5 separate regions of the Homo sapiens genome follow, and regions 1, 2, 3 and 4 are each linked to region 5. The links come from fine-mapping of genetic effects on gene expression. A gene starts in region 5. Each other region holds a variant in brackets. All regions are shown on one strand. Distances are between the middles of the regions.

Region 1 (4,117 bases), 190 kb after region 5:
GTTTGGGAGAGGTCCTTCTTTTTTTTTTTGAGATGGAGTTTCACTCTGTTACCCAGTGATCTCGGCTCACTGCAACCTCCTTCCCCCGGGGTTCAAGTGATTGTCATGCCTCAGCCTCCCGAGTAGCTGGGATTATAGGCACGCGCCACCACACCCGGCTAATTTTTGTGGAGTTGAGTTGGAGTTTCGCCATGCTAGCCAGGATGGCTTCAAACTCCTGACCTCAAGGGATCCACCCGCCTCAGCCTCCCAAAGTGCTGGGATTACAGGCGTGAGCCACCGTGCCCAGCCGAGAGATCCTTCTTCAGGGTTCCTCACTTTTTCTTCCTGCTGTACTCCCACGAGGTTCCGTGTGTTTATGCCGAAATGCCTGAGGGAAGGAAGTCCCAGGGACACAGGGAACTTTTCTGGCCCTGCCTATTCCTCCTTCCTGCTCCTGCACAGCTGCTCAGACAGTAGCACCAGAGGGAGAGAGAAGATGGGCAGGTGTCAGCAGCCCTCCAGGAAGACCACCAGGGAGGGGGGCTGACGGGGAGGCAAACGCCTGAGACTCATCACCCCTATTTCCTGAAAACTGAATCTGCATACACCCAAATAGGACAAACCTAAGGACTCTGCAAAAGCAAATAAGCATAGTGGTTGCCTTACGCGCCCGCCACCCTTGACACACACAGCACACTGCTGAGGTCCCATAATTGGAAACCACCCAGATGCCCCACACTGGATCCATCGTGAGGCTTTGTCAATACATAGAAGTGAGTTTTTGAAACAAAAGCAAGTAACAACAACAGCAAATCCATGTTGTAATCACGCACTTGGAATGCAGTTAAAGAGACATCATCAATCGTTGGAGTTCAGTGATCGCCCCCCGGAAGCTTCTAGTCCTGGCCTAGAACTGCAGGCTTTCAGGACTGACAAGAATCCTCTGGCCGATTCGTCCATTTAATAGGTTTAGGAACCGAGCGCCCAGCAGGGGAAGTGATTTGCCCAGGCCCACCCTGGTGGTGGGTGCAGAGCCAGGTAGACCAGTTGCAGGGCCCACTGGCTGCTGCAGACCACAGGGGAGGCTGGTGTGTTTGGCATTGAGAATCTGCACTGCTGCTCGCTGAACTTGACATTGTGGCTTTCCTTATCTCATCTGAATGTATTGAGTATTTTACTTGCATTACCTCATAACATTTTCTCGGCAGCCCTGTTTATATTTGGAAGCCTGCAGCACAGAGAGTTTGAGTGCCTTCTCCAGTGTAGATGCAGAGAACCAGGATTTAAGCTCCGGACTGGGACTGTCTGCCCCCAGAACCTATATTCTTAACCTGTATGTGCACTGTACATTTTTTTTCAAGGCAGTGGAAATCTGATATATTGCTGCCTCCTGGCCTTCCCTCCACCCTAGACCGATGGAAGGTGGCGGAGCTGGGCCTCCCTCCTGGCACCTGTAAGCATTATTGTGCTGCTTCCAGGAAGCCTGTCCCCGGGCCCTGCTCAGCGCTGTGACAGAGGGAGAAGACGGGACAAGTATTAGCATAGAACCTGTGTATACTTTGCAAATTGCTATGCCACCTGTTGTATGGCCATTTTCAGGATAAAATAACTCAGTGGCTTTCATCTCTTTATAAAAATCATAAAAACGCTTTTTTTTTTTTAGTGTGATTCTTGGACCAGCAGCGTTAGCGATCCCTGGGGGCTTGTCAGAAATGCAGTGGCTGACGAGCTCCCAGGTGAGCCCAGGCACAGTGACATCTGAGAAGGGCTGCCCACCTCAGCATGACAGGCTCCTGCAGGCGGGGCCTGGGCCTGGCCCATCACACTGTCACCGTGCCAATTACTATTTTTGCCTTGGCCAAGATCCATGCCACATTGTGTAGGACAGCGATCAGGGACAGCCAAAGGTGGGGGCCCTTACATGGAATGGGAGGGCGCTCCACTTTTTCTGATCTTGAGAAGTAACACAGTTTGCAGCCGGGGGTCATACTGCCCAGCACCTTCGTGCCTGGGTGAGCCACGTCCACGGAGTCTCTGCCACCTCTGGCTCCTGGGTTGGAACACCCCCTCCCATGAGGGTGAAGGGCGCTGGTGCGGATTGATGGAGTCTAACTGGGGACACAAGGTTAAATTCCACACATACCCTCCCTGCCGCCTTTCCCACAC[C/A]TGGCTGCACTCTGCTCGCTGTCCCGGAAAACACCCCACCATGTGTCCTGGCACTCTCTCCTGTGACCTCCAGCGCCATGAGGCTGTCGGGGACAGTGAGCCGATTCTGAAGGTGACCCTCTGTGGTTTTGTCTTCACTCTGACAAACCCTCCCCCATCCCCCCCACCCCCGCTCCCTTAAATTCAGGGAAAGAGGAGGGTTGTGGAGCTGAGCTGGGGCCTGGCTGCCCAGCTGGGCCAGGTGCATGTGGGTCCTCACCAGCTTTGGCTGCCGGCTCTGTGGTTTCCTGGTTGGGTCCTGGGGCTCCCACTAGAATTGAACTGCTCCCTGTGACAAGTACTGGGGCTTGAACAGCTGCTCCCTCTACAAGCCCCAGTACTGGAGGCTGGGTGCCTTCCAGGGCCAGCGCTAGGAAGGGTGTTGTCCAGAGGGCTGTGGGCATCCCCAGGTCAGGTCACCATCTGGGCCCCTTCCTTCCTAGTCTTTGTCACACTGAGCACTTCGTCACAGATGTGGATTCCTGGGCTTGGGGAGCCAACTTTTCTGCCTCACCTTCTCTGTCTTCACTTCCCTCTAGTGACTGGGCCCGAGGCACGTTCTCCTCCCGCCCCTGCCTTTCTGAACGGTTGTGCCACTGCCTTCATCCAACATTCTCCTAAATTCCTGCCATCTAGCTTTAGAATCTCTTATGCCTTCCTTCATTAATCCATCCATTTGAAACTAACAGTTCTGGGGGCCCTTCTGTGAATCAGATGCCCACGCCAGGCCCTCCAGACATGAAGATGAGCGGGACACTTCCCCTTATCAGTCCCAGAGTCACCTGACTCTGCCCACACCCTCACCCTTTATTTGCCTGTTATTCATTCCCGATTGTATTACACAGAGCCCCTTGTAAACAGATTCTCTCTTTCTCAAACCCTTCTCACACCCAGCCCCTCCTCCTCCTTAGATGACTTCATGTCTTCCTTTCCTGACCTCTCAGAACTGCTGCTGTCCTCGCTTCTGTCCCTCTCTGCTCCCAGCCACATCCCAGGGTTCCCTCTTCCCGGACAGCTCTTCTGCCTGGCAATTCTCCCCTTGCTGACCTCGGGCAAGCGTTTTAGAGCTCTCTGCCTCAGCTTCCTCATCTAGAACATGGAAATCATAGTACCTACCTTGTTTGCTTATTACAAACATTATACTGAATACATTTAAGAACTTACAACAGGGCCTGGCACATAGTAAGTCCTCACTAAATATTAGCCATTATCGTTATTCTCATTCCTCAAAGAAGCCACCCTGCCGTTTTCCCTGTATTTCTTCAGTCTGTCTTTCTCTCATGTATGCATCCCTTTCCCTTGGCGTACAGAATACTCAGCTCTCCCTCTTTGGAAAATATCCTCCCCTCTGTCCTCTGTTTGCCTCTAGGTGCCATCTGGCTCCCTGGCGTCTGTTCTCTGCTGTTCATACGCTCCCCAGGGCCAAGGGTGTGGCTTCCCCGTCTCCATCCCTCTCCTTCTCCAAGGTCACTGTCACCTCTTGCGGCACTTCCAAGTCCTTGCCCTCTACAGCTTTCCACACTGCTGTATTCTCACATGCAGTGATGTACTGGGGGCAGATGACACTGGGTAAGGGGCCGGGAGATGCAAATTGAGGCTGACCATCTGGGGGCAGGGGTCAGAGCTTCCAAGGGTCTGATGAGCAGGTTCTGTGCAGGGTGGGTCAGGACGTTGCCGCCAGAGAGGGATCTCAGTTCCCATCACTGGAGCAGAGTGCGTCTGGTCGCAAAGTTCATGGAGAGCCGAGTGGGTAGCTTAGGTGTGGTTTGAGGACACTGTGGTCAAGGTGAAGGGAAGGGCCATCAGCATTTGGAATTCTTGAGGGTGTCCCTAGGGATGGAGCAGAGAGGAAGGGGATCCCAGGCGGCGAGCAAGGAGCTGCCAGCCGGATGGTGCGATGGGAGGTGGGGAGGACAGCTCTGGAAGTGTG
Region 2 (4,117 bases), 91 kb after region 5:
ATTGCTCTGGAATTGGACCAGAGAACTGGAGTGTTTGTTGAGATAGAAAGTGTGTTTGTAGTAGCATATTTTATTGGAGACCTTGGGTGACCAGCTTTCTCAAGAAAAATACGGAAGCTCATTAGGAGCTAACCTCTGACTTTAGCTTGGGCAGTTTACCCATTGTCCATGAGTTAGGCCATTCATTCATCTTCCCCTCTTATTTCCATGTATTATGCAGTGGTTAAGGGTATCAGCTGTGGGAGGAACAGCCCTGGTGCAAAACCCAGCACTGCCAGATACCACCTGTGGGCACTTAACCACTTGGGCCCAAGACTTCTCCTCTGAAATGAGGGTGAGAGGATCCAGCACATGGCTGGATACATTATCCATGGAAATACACCTATCTCGAGGGTTGTTGTGAGCACCAAGTGAGCTTATATACAGGAACAGCTTCCAACAGTACCTGGCACACAGTAAGCACTCAAGCAGTGTTACCTGCTCACACCATGATTGTGGATATCTATTATCATCCACTTCCTCAGTCCCCTGTCACAGCCCTCAGAGAATTTGAGGTGTTCACTAAAATGACACAAAGGTGAAAAAACAAAACCAAGTAGACACTCAGGGCCAGGGGGTAAATGTGTAGAAGATGAAAGTGTAGACCTCATAGAAAAAGACATAAAGGCACGCCTGGTGGCAAAACATGCTCCGCAGCCCCGCAGCCCCGCAGCCACGCAGCCACGCAGCCACGCAGATACACAGCCAGTGTGAAAAGGGAGATTGTCATCCTTTATGGAGCCGTCATTGTCAGAGAGAAGGAAGCAAGTCAGTCCTCAGGGGAAGCAAGTCAGTCCTCAGGAGAAGCACAGTGTTCTCAAGCACCGACTTCTCAAATAAATTACCTTTATTTCTCTTTTTAGAACATGTTCTCTAAGTGCTACACACCTGGCCGCAGGTGGGCCCCATCAAAGGCTCAGATGCTCCGGCCTTGTCTTTCCCTCTCACGGCCTGGAGTCACCACCCTTTAGCCCTTTGTCTGAACTGAATTCCTTGAAATCAGTTGGGCATTTTATATTTTGGTTTGTGGTCAAACCTCATTAGCCAAGAAGGGATGAACCATACCACTTACTTTTGTATAGCTAAAGGTCTGGGCGACAGTGGCCTTGAGGACCCCTCACGAGCAAAGTCCTGAGGCAGGACTAGGGACAGGCCTTGGAGCTTCTCCCGAGGAGGGCCGGCGCTGCCCTTGCTCCTGGCGAGCAGGTGTGTGCTTGCAGGGGTGGGGGCAGTGGGCAGGCGCCTTTCCCGTCTGCTTGTGTGTGTCCAGAGCTGTCAGACCCATGTTCCTGGTCACGTTTGCAGTGGCACGGGGTGCTCCAGCCACCGCCGTCTGGTGCTCTTAGCCAGACGGGGCCACATCACGCTCTGGAGAGGGCTGGGAAGGGCCTTAGGGTCTGGCCTCAGATGCTGACCCTTATCTGTTTGTTTGCTTCTTTTCAAGGGCTACAGAGCCAGGAAGAGGAGCATAGAAAGAAAAAGGAACAGGAAATTGTTCAAAAGAAGTTCATGAAATGAGAAAAGCAGCAGGAAACAGCTCGGGAATCGGCGAGGCTGCAGCCGAAGGAAGTGT[GTC/C]TTGAGGGCCAGGCGGGCCAGGGGGATAAACCATCCAGACCTTTGTGGCTCCTTCCTTCTGGGCCCTCATGAGTTGGGTCCCCAGGATGGAAGGGACCTTTCCTGTAACTGGGGGACCGAGTGTGCCACTCACCACCCCCGGTGTCAGTGCAGAGACGGGGATCTGGCGTTAGAAATGACTGTGCATAAGCCAGACCACCCCAGGCCTGCTACACAGCTGCCTCCCTCCCTGCCCCTCTTGTTTGCTCCCCTCCTTCCATGACGGGTCAGCGGTGCTCTGCCAGAACCCCACTGCTTGGGGCCGCTCAGAGATTCTTCTGTCCCTCACCAGGCGCTCCGTCACTCAGCCGCACCCTGGCCCGACTCTGCCTGCAGTGTGGAGTCCCGGCCTGGAGCCTGCCTGTGTTGGGGGAGACAGTGGGAGGGAGAGGAGGAAGCAAAGGCCCGAGGGATCACGGGGAGGCATCCTCAGGGGCCCACGCATCAGTCACAGCATGGGCGACGCAGGGCAGGTTTCCTGGCTCAACACCACACTTAGGAAATCCTTTGTTAATTGTGACTCGTTTTTAAATTTGTCCCACATCTCTACGGCTGCAAGTGGAATCTGGAAAATCACCTTTTTTGTGCTTTTCTCATGGGCAGGATGAAATTGAGTTCCCAGTTAGAAACTGCTTACCTCTCGGTGTGGGCTGTTTGCCTCCGGTTTGTTTCTGTTTTTGGGGTTTTTCTGTTGGAATTGACTAGTGGACTTACAAGCTGACGGTGTCCATTCTGGGGCCAATGTCTCCTCAGCATTCCTCCTCCACACACGCAGGCCTCTTCAGCCGACTGATTCTTTGGCCAGTGTTCAAGTTGAGTGTAAATAGGACGTGACTGAAAACCAGTTCTTGAGCTTCCATATCCTTTTCTGGTCAGAGTATTGAACACTGCAGTTTTTAGTGGAGTTAAGGGAGTTGTTGAATTGGGTCAGAGTGTTTTGGGGCTGGAAAAACTCTGAGGTACGATCCCATCATGAGTTCTTTTTTTTTTTTTCTTTTTTTTTTTGAGACGGTGTCTCACTCTTGTCGCCCAGGCTGGAGTGCAGTGGCGCGATCTCGGCTCACTGCAACCTCTGACTCCCTGGTTCAAGCAATTCTCCTGCCTCAGCCTTCCGAGTGGCTGGGATTACAGGCACGTGCCACCATGCCCAGCTAATTTTTGTATTTTTAGTAGAGACGGGGTTTCACCATATTGCCCAAGATGGTCTTGATCTCCTGACCTCATGATCCGCCCGCCTCGGCCTCCCAAAGTGCTGGGATTACAGGCGTGAGCCACCGCGCCCGGCCCCATCATGAGTTCTTGAATCTCCTCCATGGCCTCCCTGGAGTGTGGAGTTGTCCAGTGGAAACTACGTGAAGGCCCAGGGACAGGGAGCTGCCACCTTCAGAGTAGCCTCTTCCATCTTCAGACATATTTTAGAAAACTCTTTCTTATGTTTTCCAAAACCTGCTTTTATCTCTTGATGCTTCAGCTCTCGATCTCAATGAAGAAGCCTATTTCCTTTCTTTTACAAATTCAGAGAGAGCCTTCCATCAGGGGAAACAGTCCCGGCTTCCCCATGTGCTCCCTGGTGGAAATATCTCTAGGTTCCCTGCTCTCCAGATACCTGCTTCTGAATGCACAGCAGTTGGTCTCTGCTCCCCTCAAGTACGGGGCCCAGGTGTGAAGACCGTGCTTCAGAGCTGGGCACTGGGAGAGGGCAGACACAAACCGGAGTGCAGAGTACAGGGCTATTCTCAGCTCCCTGCGTGAAACCAGGGAGCTCTGCCTCTGCTGATGGAGCTGCGCCAAGTCCTTATTTGATGGCCGCGTCCTGCTGGAGACACTGAGTTTGCAGTGGCACCAAATCCTCTGTGTGTGCCCTTTGTTGTGGCCGCTCCACATTTCCAGGATGGTCTCCACCCAGAATTTGATTTGAACGTTGAGACCACATAATAGGGTTTTCTGGAGAGAGCAGGGCCGGCTTCTCAAGCTGGTCTGAAAATGAAAGACAGGGAAGAGAAAGGAGAAAGGAGACTGGTCTGGGGATTGTATGGTGATTAGCGGTTAGGTTTGGGCGAGGGTTCCGTGTGGGCAGGGGCTTACATGGTTTGAACCTTCTGCTGCAGCCAAGCGGGAGAGCATCCAGACTTTCTTATCAGCTTGCCCAGATGTGGGGCAGAAGGGGAAGAGCGAGGGATGGGGCTTAAAAAAAAAAGCTGTCAGCAGTTAAAGAGCAAAAAATGGAGTCAGACTGTCATACCTCCTTTTCATTTATTTTCTATCAAGATCAAATGTTTAATACAATGAAATGCACAGGTCTTAAGTGTGCAGTCCAGTTAGTTTTGACAAACTTATATACCCTTGTAACTGATACTCCAGTCAACAAAAGCAACATTTCCATCCCTCTTTTTTTTTTTTTTTTTTTTTAAGAGACAGAGCCTTGCTCTGTCACTCAGGCTGGAGTGCGGTGGCATGAACACAG
Region 3 (4,117 bases), 740 kb after region 5:
GAATGGTGTGAACCCAGGAGGTGGAGCTTGCAGTGAGCCAAGATCATGCCACTGCACTCCAGCCTGGGCAACTAAGCGAGACTCCGTCTCAAAAAAAAAAAAAAAAAAAAAAACTGGAATGAGACAGAAAATTAGCATGGTCCCTGCGCAAGGATGACATGCAAATTTGCAAGGGTTCCATATTTTTAAAAAATCATTACAGAATTCTTTACATAGAAAATTCCATCTAGTAGATCATTGAACAAAAGAGAGACCAGAAATAGATCTACACATACACATGTATGACCTAAACCTGTGGATATGAACCACATTTTATATTTGCTTTTGACAAAGATTTTATATAGCAAGAAATGTGGCTCCTATAGAGAAGCCTGGCCTTTTCCCCATCTCCTGGGAGGTAATCTCTAAACTCTTGGAATTTCCTGAGTGTTAAGGGTGTCTTTGTTATTTGATGGGCCCTTGGAACTACACCTGATATTTTATGCTATAACATGTTGGGGGTGGCCATGGCAGGAAGACCAACTATCTGATAAGACGGTTGGAGCTGGGGGACACATGGTATCAGCTCAACCTCTAGGGAACAGGGGGCGGGAGATTGAGTACAACCACATGGGCTCAACCAATCGTGTTTGTAAGAAAACCTCAATAAAATCTCTGGGCACCAGAGCTCAGGTAAGTTTCCCTGGTTGGGAATACTCTGAACAGACTATCACACATCAGTGCTGGTAGGAAAACACTTTCCTGAAGATAGTGGCAGTTTCATGTTTGCAACCCTCCCAGACTTCACCCTACGTGTCTCTTCCTTTGTCTGGTTCTAATTTATATCCCATTGCTATAATAAAGCTGCAGTGGTACACACAGCACTTTCCTGAGTTCTGTGAGTCATTCTAGCAAAGTACCAAATCTGAGAGTGGTTTTAGGAAGCCGCAAACTCGCAGTTGGTGTCTGAAGTCAGGGCAATCTTATAGGGATTGTTCCGTCTGACTGTGTGGTTTGGGTAACTCCTTACAGATACCAAGGCAATTCACTGAGAAAATGGACTCTTTTGCACATGTCATACTGTAATTATTGATATCCATATGTAAAGAAATGAGCCTCAACCCTTACCTCATAGTATCTGCAAAAACTAACTTGAAATGAAAAGTAGACCGGAATGTAAGAACTAGAACTAGAACTTTTCTAGAATAAAATACAGAAGAACGTCTTTGTGACCCTGGGTTGGGCATATATTAATATATTAAATAGACCACAAAAAGGAAAATATGATGACTAGGTCTTCATAAAAATTTTAAAAATTTGCTCTTCAAATAATACTGTTAAGAAAATGAAAAGGCAAGTCTGGGGTAAAATATCGGCAAAATATGTATCTGTCAAAGTATTTGTATCAAGAATATAAAAAGAATTATTTGGCGGGTGTGGTACCTCATGCTTGTAATCCTAGCACTTTGGGAGGCTGAGGCAGGAGGATCACTTGGATAGTCATTCTAGCAAAGTACCAAACCTGAGGGTGGTTTCAGGAAACCCCCAAATTTGCACACTTACAAACTTGTAAAAAAATCCAATTAGAAAACGGGTAAAAGACATGAACAGACATTTCCTGAAGAAGCTATACAGATGGCAAATAAGCACATGAAAAGAGTTCAACATCATTAGCCATTAGGGAAATACAAAATAAAGCCACAGTGAAATATTATTTTGCATTTTGCATGTAGCATAATAATATTTTTTATTTTAGGCTGGGCACGGTGGCTCATGCCTGTAATCCCAGCACTTTCGGAGGCTGAGGTAGGCAGATCACCTGAGGTCAGGAGTTCGAGACCAGCCTGGCCAACATGGTGAAACCCCGTCTGTACTAGAAATACCAAAAAAAAAAAAAAAAGTTAAAAAGATATTTTTTATTTTTGCCTAGCAGAATGGCTAAAATGAAAAATAATGACAACACCAAATGCTGGCAAAGATGTAGAGAAACTGGGCCACAAAAATTGCTGGTAGGAATGTGAAATGATACAACCACTCTGGGAAAAGGTTTAGCAGTTTTTAAAAATAAAACCGTGCGGGCTGGGCGTGATGGCTCACACCTGTAATCCCAGCACTTTGGGAGGCTGAAGCGGGTGGATCACGAGGTCAGGAGATCGAGACCATCCCGGCTAACACAATGAAACCCTGTCTCTACTAAAAGTACAAAAAAATTAGCCAGGCGTGGTGGCGCGCGCCTGTAGTCCCATCTACTCGGGAGGCTGAGGTAGGAGAATTGCCTGAACCCAGGAGGCGGAGGTTGCAGTGAGCCGAGATCTCGCCACTGCACTCCAGCTTGGGTGACAGAGGGAGAATCCGTCTCAATAAATAAATAAATAAATAAATAAATAAATAAATAAAACTGCATGAAACTACCATACAACCCACAGTTGCTCTCCTGGGCATTTATCTCAGAGAAAAGAAAACTTACATTCACACCAATTGTTCATAGCGACTTTATTCATAATAGCCAAAAACCAAGTCATGGTATATGCACAGGACGGAACACTACTCAGCAA[T/C]AAACAGGAGCAAGCTATTGGTGTGTGTGTGTGTGTGTGTGTGTGTGTGTATATGTAATGAATCTCATATGTAATGAATCCCTAGGGAATTAGGCTGAGTGAAAATAGCCAATCTTTACAAATTGTATATTGTATATTGTATGCTTACATTTATCTATATTACACTCTTGAAATGACAAAATTATGGAGAAGAGACTAATAGTTGCCAGGAGCTGGGGGCGGGGAAAGAGGTGAGTGTGGCTATAAAAGGGCAACACAAGGGGTCCCAGTGATGATGGAACTGCTCTGTGTCTTGACTTCATCAATGTCAACAGCCTGGTTGTGATATGTTACTATACTTTACAAGATGTTACCACTGGGGGAAGCTGGATCAAGGGATCTCTCTTTTTTTCTTTTCTTCCATAAGTAAGGAAACAATCTCTGTATTATTTCTTATAATGTGAATCTATAATTATTTCAAAATAAAAAGTTAAATTAAATAAATCTGTACACAAATGTTTATAGTGGTTTTATTCATACTCATTAAAAACTGGAATCAATCCAAATGCCCAAGAACTGGTAAATGAATATATAAAATGTAGTAAAACCTTACAGTGAAATGCTACTCAGCAATAATAAAGAATGAACCACTGATATGTAAAACACGAATGAATCTCAAAAGCTTCATGCTATGTGAAAGGAGTCAGACTCAAGACTATCTACTATATAATTCCATTTATGTGAAGTGCTAAAAAAAAGTCCAAAATCTTAGTTATAAAAAGCAGATTAGTGGTTGCCAGGAGGCAGAGGGTAGGGGTGTAGAATGACTGAAAAATGTTTCAAGGTAATTTTTTGGGGGTAATGAAAATATCCTATCAATTTCATGATTGTGGTAGTGACTATATGATGGTATATTTGTTAAAACTCATTTATTGTGCACTTAACATTGGTGAATTTTATTGCATTTAAATTGTACCTCAATAAAGTTGACCCCAAAATTGGGCTAATAAATTTAGACTATTTTGCGACTTGCTTTTTCATTTAACTATATGTTGTGGACTTCTGGCTTCCAGACAGAGAGCTTTACCTCCTTTTTAATAGTTCCATAGTCTTTCATTGTATGGATGCAGCACAATCCCACAATTAATTTAATTAATCTTTCCTTGATGAGCATTTCTGCTGTTTCCAATTTTTTATTCTTTTTTAAATTTATTTATTTTTTTTGAGACGGAGTCTCGCTCTGTCACCCAACCTAGAGTGCAGTGACATGATCTTGGCTCACCGCAACCTCTGCCTCACAGGTTCAAGTGATTCTTCTGTCTTAGCCTCCCGAGTGGCTGAGATTACAGGTGTGCGCCACCATGCCCACCTAATTTTTGTATTTTTAGTAGAGACGCGGTTTCACCATGTTGGCCAGGTTGGTTTCAAACTCCTGACCTCAGGTGATCCACCCACCTCAGCCTCTCAAAATTTTTTATTCTTACAAGTAATGTGATGGTTAACCTTTTCATGTATCTTTGTATACCAGAGAAATTGTTTTTATTGAATAGACTTCTAAAAGTGATATTTCTCGGTTTAAGGATATATGTAATTAAAATTTTTGG
Region 4 (4,117 bases), 200 kb after region 5:
TTGCTGGTGTAGTGATGCGGATTCTGCACCCCGGAATGTGGCAGTGTTTGCATGCAGGCTGGCTGTGAAGACCCAGGGCAGCAGGCCGGCAGGCTGGTTCCCCTGCACACCGGACTAACTCTGTCCTCTCTCTCCACAGGCACACATTCTGGCAGTTCCGCCATGAGAACCCCCAGACCCGGGTTGGGGGCCCGCCCCCCGAGGGGCTGCCGGGCTTCAACAGCGGGGTGATGTTGCTGAACCTGGAGGCCATGCGCCAGTCCCCGCTCTACAGCCGCCTGCTGGAGCCGGCGCAGGTGCAGCAGCTGGCCGACAAGTACCACTTCCGCGGCCACCTCGGGGACCAGGACTTCTTCACCATGATCGGCATGGAGCACCCCAAGCTCTTCCATGTGCTGGACTGTACCTGGAACCGGCAGCTGTGCACCTGGTGGAGGGACCATGGCTACAGTGACGTCTTCGAGGCCTATTTCAGGTGTGAGGGCCACGTCAAGATCTACCACGGGAACTGCAACACTCCCATCCCGGAGGACTAGGCGCTCCCCGTGCCTTGCCCCCGGGGCCTCCAGATCTGGGGGAAGGACAGGGTTCCTTGGGACAGACCCAAGGGCAGTGTCTGACCCGCTAGAGAGACACCGCAGGGAAGTCCTGTGATTAAGGTGCTGAGACCTCCTGCCGGGCAGGTCACTGTGCTGAGGCCACCCGCCAAGGACTGGCCTGTGCACTGCTGGTGCTTGGGACCTTATTCCTCCAGGGAGCAGGCGACACAAAGGACACGCATGTCCAGTGGGCTGGGAAGCAAGCACTTGAAGAGAAGGAAGGGGAGAAAGGGTCCCCCTTGCTGTCTGCCTCTGAGGAATGGAAATCCTTTAGACCCGGCCTTTTTTGGACCAATATAAATTTAATTTAAATTGACAGCCTTCCATTTTTCGAGAAAGTACAAACAGAACTGCTTTAGCACCCATCGAGCCCCAAACGGGTAAGGTAAGCCAAGGTTTTAATGACCAGCCCAGTATCTAAGCTTCCAAACGAATGCCAGCCCATCACATACTCACCCTGGGAGGCTGCTGCACGCGCATTCTCCTGATGCTCACGTCACTTGGTGTAGGTTTCAGGATCGCCTCTTTGAGGAAGGACTTCAGGACCAACTGGGGCCTGCATAAGAAAACTTATCTCATTATTAGAGTACTCACAGCTTGTATCTCCCAGCTACATCCTAGAACCCCATTGTCCTTTATTCCACCAAACCAGCTCCAGGTGACCAGACTCTACTCAGAAAGCAAATTCGTCATCAAAGAACAGAGACTGGCCACCACAAGGACATGCAGGAGAACTGTCGGGACCAGGAAGACTCATTCCAAAAAGCCCAGGCCGGGCACAGTCGTCAAGCCTGTAATCCCAACACTTTGGGAGACCGAGGTGGGGGTATCGATTGAGCCTCGGAGGTCGAGATCAGCCTGGGAAACACAGGGAGGCCCCCATCGCTACAAAATATTTTAAAAATTAGCCAGGTGTGGTGGCTTGTGCTTGTTGTCCCGGCTACTTGGGAGGCTGAAGTGGGAGGGTGGCTTGAGTCCAGGAGTTCACTGCACTGAGCTGTGATCACACCACTGCACTCCAGCCTGGACGACAGAGTGAGACGTCCATCTCAAAAAAAAAAAAAAAACCAAAAAGGAACCCAGCAATTCCCAAGTGTGACCATGTGGGCTTGGAAGACATGTCACTCATGGGCTAGTAAGCATTCTAGTTTCTTTGTTTAAAAAATCCCCTTATCATACCACGTTAGACCGTAGACCTTAGCAGAAATTAAAGCGTC[A/G]TTTCTTTTGATGGGGCCTCCTGTACGTAGGCTGCAGACGTGAAAGCCCCAGGGGTCCATTTGTATCAATTTTCATCTTGTTTTGTTTTGATTTCATTTACGTTTTTCTTTTTCCCATGAGTGAGGATAGCCAATAAATCATCTTTGAGAACATGGTGATTCATGTTGTTTGTTCTCTGATCACAGTTTCAGCTGCATGAAGGCTCTGAATCAAGTGTGTACTCAATGCCATTGGAATCCCCACCTCCCCTGATGAAGATGAGTGCTTACAGGAGATCCTAAGGACCAAGGAGAGGGCACATCTGAGAGGGTGTCAGAGAGGGTAGTATTGGCATGTTTGGTTCAAAGCAAGGAATCATTTCATTCTAGGTATTGGCAGGTCCACCTGCACTGGGGAGCAAAAGCATCCCCATTTCTTCTCATCCCTCTTACCCTAGACTGCCCAGTTACATCCTGCCCTGAAGAGGTGGAGCAGATATCTTTCCCAGCCCTCTGCTGTGACAGAATTGGTCTGTTCTCTCACCTACTTGATTTCCTATTTATAGGTAACAATTCTTGAATGCCTGCTGTGCACCAGCCATTGTATTGGGGGATTTATTACGCTATTGATAATGTTTATGAAAACTTCATGAAGGTCATTATGTCTAAAGTCGACTGTAAGAAAATGTGAGAGATGTGGACAGAGTCATATACTATATGTTTATCACATTTTTTATAGTAGAAGAAAATTGGAAGCAACTTAAAATGTGAAAAAGAGGGGCCAGGCGCGGTGGCTCACACATGTAATCCCAGCACTTTCAGAGGCTGAGGCCGGCAGATCTCTTGAGCCCAGGAGTTCAAGACCAGCCTGGGCAACATGGCAAGGCCCAGTGTCTACAACTATACAAAAATTAGCTGGGCATGGTGGTGCACGCCCAGCTATTCAGGAGGCTGAGCTGGGAGGATCACTCAAACCCAGGAGGCAGAGGCTGCAGTGAGCTGAGATCACGACACTACACTCCAGCCTGGGGGACCGGGCAAGACTCTGTCTGTCTTTAAAAAAAAAAAAAAAAAAAAAAAAAAAAGAATGGAATAGGTAGATGAATAATATGCTTCATCCATATAACAGAATACTTGAGGCATTATTCGAAGAATATGTAATGCCTCAGGAAATACTTAGAATGTGCTATTAAATAAAGAATGCAAAATGTAAGATCATATGTTTAATACGATCCTATTTTTAAAATTACATATATGTGTATGTATATCAGTGTACACACGTGTGTATAGATACATACCTACACACACACGTATGTATAAAAAGAGCATCTATTCTGCTGTATTTCAACTTCTAAAAACATAGGTGTTTCAAACACCACATTAAAAAAACAATTATTTCAACGGGAAAAAAGTGAGTTAAAGGCTAAAGAATTTTAGACTCACAATAATAAAGGTATTTTCCCTGCAATCCTTTCTATAATTAAAATGTGTCTATAGCTATGTGTGTATTTTGTTGTTGCAAGAAAAAAACAATAAGCTGGTTGGTCAAAATGGGCAAAGGCCAAACAACATCCCTCATTTACTTTTAAGTAAACCTCTCAGGAGCTTCCCCTCTGTCACCAGTGGCCTCGACCTTCCAACCCCCCAGTGCACAGCAGACTGTCACTGCACAGGCACCCCAGCCCACCCACAGATCACACCCCAGCCCGCTGACAGATCACACCCCAGCCCGCTGACAGGTCCCACCGCAGCCCACCAACAGATCCCACCCCGGCCCGCGGACAGATCACACCCCAGCCCGACAGATCACACTGCAGCCCACCAACAGATCACACCCTGGCCCATAGACAGATCACACCCCAGCCTGCTGACAGATCACCACATAGGCACCCCAGCCCGCCGACGGATCACCACACAGGCAGCCAGCCCACCGACAGATCACTCCACAGCCTGCCGACAGATCACACCCCGGCCCACCGACAGATGACTTCACAGGCACCCCAGCCCGCCCACAGATCACCGCACAGGCACCCCAGCCCGCCCACAGATCACACCCCAGCCCCCCGACAGATCACCGCACAGGCACCCCAGCCTGCCCACAGATCACACCCCAGCCCGCCGACAGATCACACCCCAGCCTGCGGACAGATCACTGCACAGGCACCCCAGCCCGCCCACAGATCACACCCCGGCCCGCCGACAGATCACTGCACAGGCACCCCAGCCCGCCCACAGATCACACCCCAGCCCACTGACAGATCACACCCCAGCCCGTCAACAGATCACACCCAGCCCACCAACAGATCACTGCACAGGCACCCC
Region 5 (4,117 bases):
TTTTTTGAGACAGAGTTTTGCTCTTGTCGCCCAGGCTGGAGTGCAGTGTTATGATCTCGGCTCACTGCAACCTCCACCTCCCAGGTTCAAGCGATTCTTCTGCCTCAGCCTCCTGAGTAGCTGGGATTACAGGCGCCCGCCACCATGTCTGGCTAATTTTTTGTATTTTTAGTAGAGACGGGGTTTCGCCATGTTGGGCAGGCTGGTCTCGAACTCCTGGCCTAAGGTGATCTGCCCTCCTCGGCCTCCCAAAGTGCTAGGATTACAGGCGTGAGCCACCATTCCCGGCCTAAGCCACCATGCTTGGCCTTGCTTTATTCTTATGGTTAAATATTTTGAACATTCTTAAATTATTAGGAAGATTTTCTAGAAATAAAAATGCTGTTTCAATGGTTGAGTATATTTTTGAGACTCATCCAATGTGGTAGGCACCGTGTTAGGTACTGGGTATATTGTGGTTAATAAAAAACAAATGTATATTCTGTTCTCTTGGAGTCACGTGTTCTTGCAATGAAGAAAGATGAGACTAGGGTAGTACATATATTTAGGTGGCCCTCACAGAATTATTGAGGATGGCACTTAGCCCAGACACTGGATAGGAGGTATTTAGAGATCATTTGTGTAGGTAGTGACATGTAAGCCAAGGTCTGAAGCAGAGAGGTTGGATAATCCATGCAACCTTACAATGTGGAAATAACAGGAAAAACCGTTTACCTAATCTCTGGTCAGAAATCAGAGAACTTGGCCAAAGAACTGAAGGGTTACTGTACTTACTCAAGTTCTTTGTCTATTTAGACAGCATGCACAGCACTTGCACGTGTTTACTTAAAAACTACTGGTATAGCCTCAATTCTTAGAAGACTGAAGTTAGTACGTTTTTATCTAGTTAGCAGTGTGCAACTGCCTAGGGTCAAAATTGCTACTGGCTAGCTGTGTGACTTTGGGCACGTGACCTCGGCGTGCAAAACTCCCTGGTACCCTCAAGGAGGCTCTTGATAAAGTGTTAAAAGTCTGTTTATAAAACAAAAGTGGATGAATGTCGCCCTCCAGGGCTTTGCGGTGCTGGGGCTCGGGGAGCAGCCTCGCAGGTTCGTGCGGGCGGCGGGGGCCCCCTGCTGGCCACATCCTCCAGCCTCCCTCCGCTCGGCCTCCGGCGCGACGTGCGGCCCGGGCCATTTCCTCCCAGGGCGGGGGAAAAGGGAGGAGCTGCCGGTTTAAATTGCCTAGCTGCAGCTCGTGTGCAGGGAGAGGCCGAGACGGCTTAAAGCCTCCAAGAAATTGAGGGAAAAAAGGTGCAGAGATTAAAGTTTTACCTCTTGGTGCCTCCAGCTTCGCTTTTGGCTAACCTAAGTTCCTCTGTTCGGGCGCCTCCATTCCCTTCAACACTCAGCTTGGATATCCTCTGGGGCTCGCCGCGTAGGGCGCCATTTCTCAGCCGGGACAGCGGGCCAGCCCTCAGCACGCTGGAGTCCGGAATCCCCCCCTCCCAACGCCGGGCGCCGGATCCCACCCTAACCCCTCCTCTAATACCCTTGGAACCTAGGACCCAGCGGTTTCGGCACGCCCGGCCCCGCCCCTCCGCGCACCGGCGCCCGCGATTGGCTCCAGGCGGCGCGGCCCCGCCCCTTTCATGGCCGCCGCCTGGCGCCGGGGCTAAGTGGCCGCCGGCGTCCGGGTACCCGAGGGCTCTCCCGCGTTGCTGGCACCGCTGGCGCCGCGGTCTCGTAGCGCATGGGCCTCCTCCGAGGCGGGCTCCCATGCGCTCGGGCCATGGCGCGCCTGGGCGCTGTGCGCTCCCACTACTGCGCCCTGCTGCTGGCCGCGGCGCTGGCCGTCTGCGCCTTCTACTACCTCGGCTCAGGCCGGGAGACCTTCTCCAGCGCCACCAAGAGGCTGAAGGAGGCCCGCGCCGGGGCTCCCGCCGCGCCCTCGCCGCCCGCGCTGGAGCTAGCGCGGGGCTCCGTGGCGCCAGCCCCCGGCGCGAAGGCCAAGAGCTTGGAGGGCGGCGGTGCCGGGCCGGTGGACTACCACCTGCTGATGATGTTCACCAAGGCGGAGCACAATGCCGCGCTGCAGGCCAAGGCCCGCGTCGCGCTGCGCTCACTGCTGCGCCTCGCCAAGTTCGAGGCGCACGAGGTGCTTAACCTTCACTTCGTGAGCGAGGAGGCCAGCCGCGAGGTGGCCAAGGGCCTGCTGCGGGAGCTCCTGCCGCCCGCCGCTGGCTTCAAGTGCAAGGTGAGCGGGCCGCGGCTGGGGGCTCCCGGTGGGTGGCCCACCCCATCCTAGGCGAGGTCAGTTTGCGCTCCCGGAGGGGATCCGGGGAACTAGCGGGTAGGATCTTCCCTGAGCTGCCCGCTTGCAATGTAGTGTTCACAACCTGCGGGAGGGCTCGTTCGGGGGCGTGTCCGGGAGCCAGACGCCCTCAGCTGGTGCTGAGGAGTGGAGCTGCGTTTTTAATGACCGCCTCGTTTTCCTCTCCCCCAGTTAAGCGCAGCCCCCAGGAGAGTCCGCGCGCCCCCATTTTGCTAACGTTGCAGGGTTCAGCACTGCCTTCAGAGTCTGCACCTCTGTTTATGTTCCTCAGTTTTTGACTTCTGAGGATGGGACTGGTCACCAGTAGTCATCCTGAGCAACTGGAGAGGGCCTTGGTGAGGCCTCTGGAAGTGTTGAAGTTGCAGTGACACTTCTCATTGCTCTTAAGGTATTTCAGTAGGATCTGGTCAAACTCATTGTGAACCATCTTATCTCCTCTCTGTGTCCCTTTTTCCCCTTCCTCCAAGGGTCATGAACCCATTTAGAGAAGCCTGGAGTTCCTCCGAATGAGGAAGAGAAAGCTCAAGAGGAACAGATATGATCTGGGGAGAGCACAGCTGGCCGCCTTGTCCCAGGCTGGACCAGTCTGCCTCCATGACAGCTTCCATCTCTGTTTATCATCTGTCTTCACTGCCTGGCTCTCCTTGTCTGAGATGTGTTTCTGACATAGTGTGAATTGCCTAGGTCAAATTGCTTATTTGATTTTGACCTAATAGTTGTACAGAGGGGATCCGAGGCCAGATTTTAAGGAGTAGTAGGTAATATTAAAGGGTGGAGACTGATGTTGGTTGGGGAAGCATGCTGAGACAGGAGTTGTATTATGTGAGTGACTAGGGGAGCTGTTGCCAGGATCCTACAGGCTTCGGGAGTCTCTGATAGCTCCTTGTTGCCTACGGGGTGAAGTCCCAGTTTATTGGTAGGGCTGTTGTGTTGTGAGCCTGGTCCACTTCTCTGGCTTCACCTCTCCTCCTTTGTCTACATGCACCTCATACCTTAGCTATGTAGGGAGTGGGCCTTATACATGCTGTACTGTCTGCCCACAGTGTCCTCTTGGGCCCTTGGCCATTCTTTACTCAGCTTTCACCTCTCCTGAGAAAGTCCCTAGACCCTGGGACCTCTGAAGGTCCTCGCTGGAGGAGGAGCCTGGCAACCTGTCCCAGGTGATCCTAATGACCCTAATATTTGAGAAACTTTGCACTAGTTCACGGTAGAAAACTGAGGGCCCTTGGCCATAGGGTCAGTCTGGGCAGATCTTGGGATTTGACCAGGTCTCCAAACACCGCCTTGAAGATAGCATTGTCATCTCTTCTGGGCCTACTCTGCACCGTTGCCGGATCTCTGTCCCCTTGTCCCCAGCTCCCGCTGCAGCGCTAGCTGCACAGCCAGTGCTTTCCAGCCTACTTGCCTTTGCTTTTGTCATTCCCACTGTTGGGGTGCTCCTTCTCTCCATCTCCAAGTCTTGCCCATCTTCAGATACCATCCCCTCCTTGGAGCCAAGGAAGCGTCCCTTCTTTCCTTTTCTACTTCCCTGGTGCTGTGACTGTATCATGTCTTATCATCCATCCCTATGTACAATGCCTGGCACTCTTAGTTGGCACCAGAAATATTGGCCCAGGGGTAGATCCAGCCTCAGGGCCGAGCCCCTCCTGTCTTGGAGTAAGTGTTTCATGCTCGGACTACCCCACTTTACTGGGCCCAGTTCTGGCAGCCTCACTCAAGGCCTGGAGGCAGCTGCAAATGACCAGAGGGAACTGATACCTCCTCTGTTGAGGGGTGAGGGTTTAGTGTCTGGGGACTTCTAGCC

Evidence for each region. PIP is the estimated chance that this variant, and not a neighbour inherited with it, causes the effect.
Region 1: its variant is the best candidate, but not a certain one, in a credible set for the expression of XXYLT1 in nasal epithelium (TOPMed, PIP 0.63).
Region 2: its variant is the best candidate, but not a certain one, in a credible set for the expression of XXYLT1 in whole blood (TOPMed, PIP 0.66).
Region 3: its variant is the best candidate, but not a certain one, in a credible set for the expression of XXYLT1 in prostate (GTEx, PIP 0.88).
Region 4: its variant is the best candidate, but not a certain one, in a credible set for the expression of XXYLT1 in blood mononuclear cells (TOPMed, PIP 0.61).

What each region holds. Positions count from the first base shown.
Region 1 is chr3:195,078,745-195,082,861 of GRCh38, reverse strand. The region is part of intron 3 of XXYLT1 (xyloside xylosyltransferase 1); the gene reads left to right. Among named protein-coding and RNA genes, the nearest start is that of XXYLT1-AS1, 14 kb to the left of the region's middle. RefSeq lists enhancers at 377-546, 2,438-2,517, 3,322-3,838. The variant C/A (reference allele first, on the strand shown) is at 2,149.
Region 2 is chr3:195,177,882-195,181,998 of GRCh38, reverse strand. All of the region lies in intron 2 of XXYLT1 (xyloside xylosyltransferase 1), which reads left to right. Among named protein-coding and RNA genes, the nearest start is that of XXYLT1-AS2, 32 kb to the right of the region's middle. RefSeq lists enhancers at 786-1,363, 1,364-1,941. The variant GTC/C (reference allele first, on the strand shown) is at 1,613.
Region 3 is chr3:194,529,573-194,533,689 of GRCh38, reverse strand. It overlaps the pseudogene RNU6-1101P. Among named protein-coding and RNA genes, the nearest start is that of ATP13A3-DT, 44 kb to the right of the region's middle. The variant T/C (reference allele first, on the strand shown) is at 2,535.
Region 4 is chr3:195,066,134-195,070,250 of GRCh38, reverse strand. XXYLT1 (xyloside xylosyltransferase 1) reads left to right here. Exons shown (of 4, transcript NM_152531.5): 4 at 140-1,967. The coding sequence ends at 536. Among named protein-coding and RNA genes, the nearest start is that of XXYLT1-AS1, 26 kb to the left of the region's middle. RefSeq lists an enhancer at 720-1,919. The variant A/G (reference allele first, on the strand shown) is at 1,817.
Region 5 is chr3:195,268,673-195,272,789 of GRCh38, reverse strand. It overlaps XXYLT1 (xyloside xylosyltransferase 1), which reads left to right and starts at 1,631. Exons shown (of 4, transcript NM_152531.5): 1 at 1,631-2,235. The coding sequence starts at 1,732. RefSeq lists silencers at 1,001-1,230, 1,481-2,010, 2,171-2,350 and an enhancer at 1,601-2,392.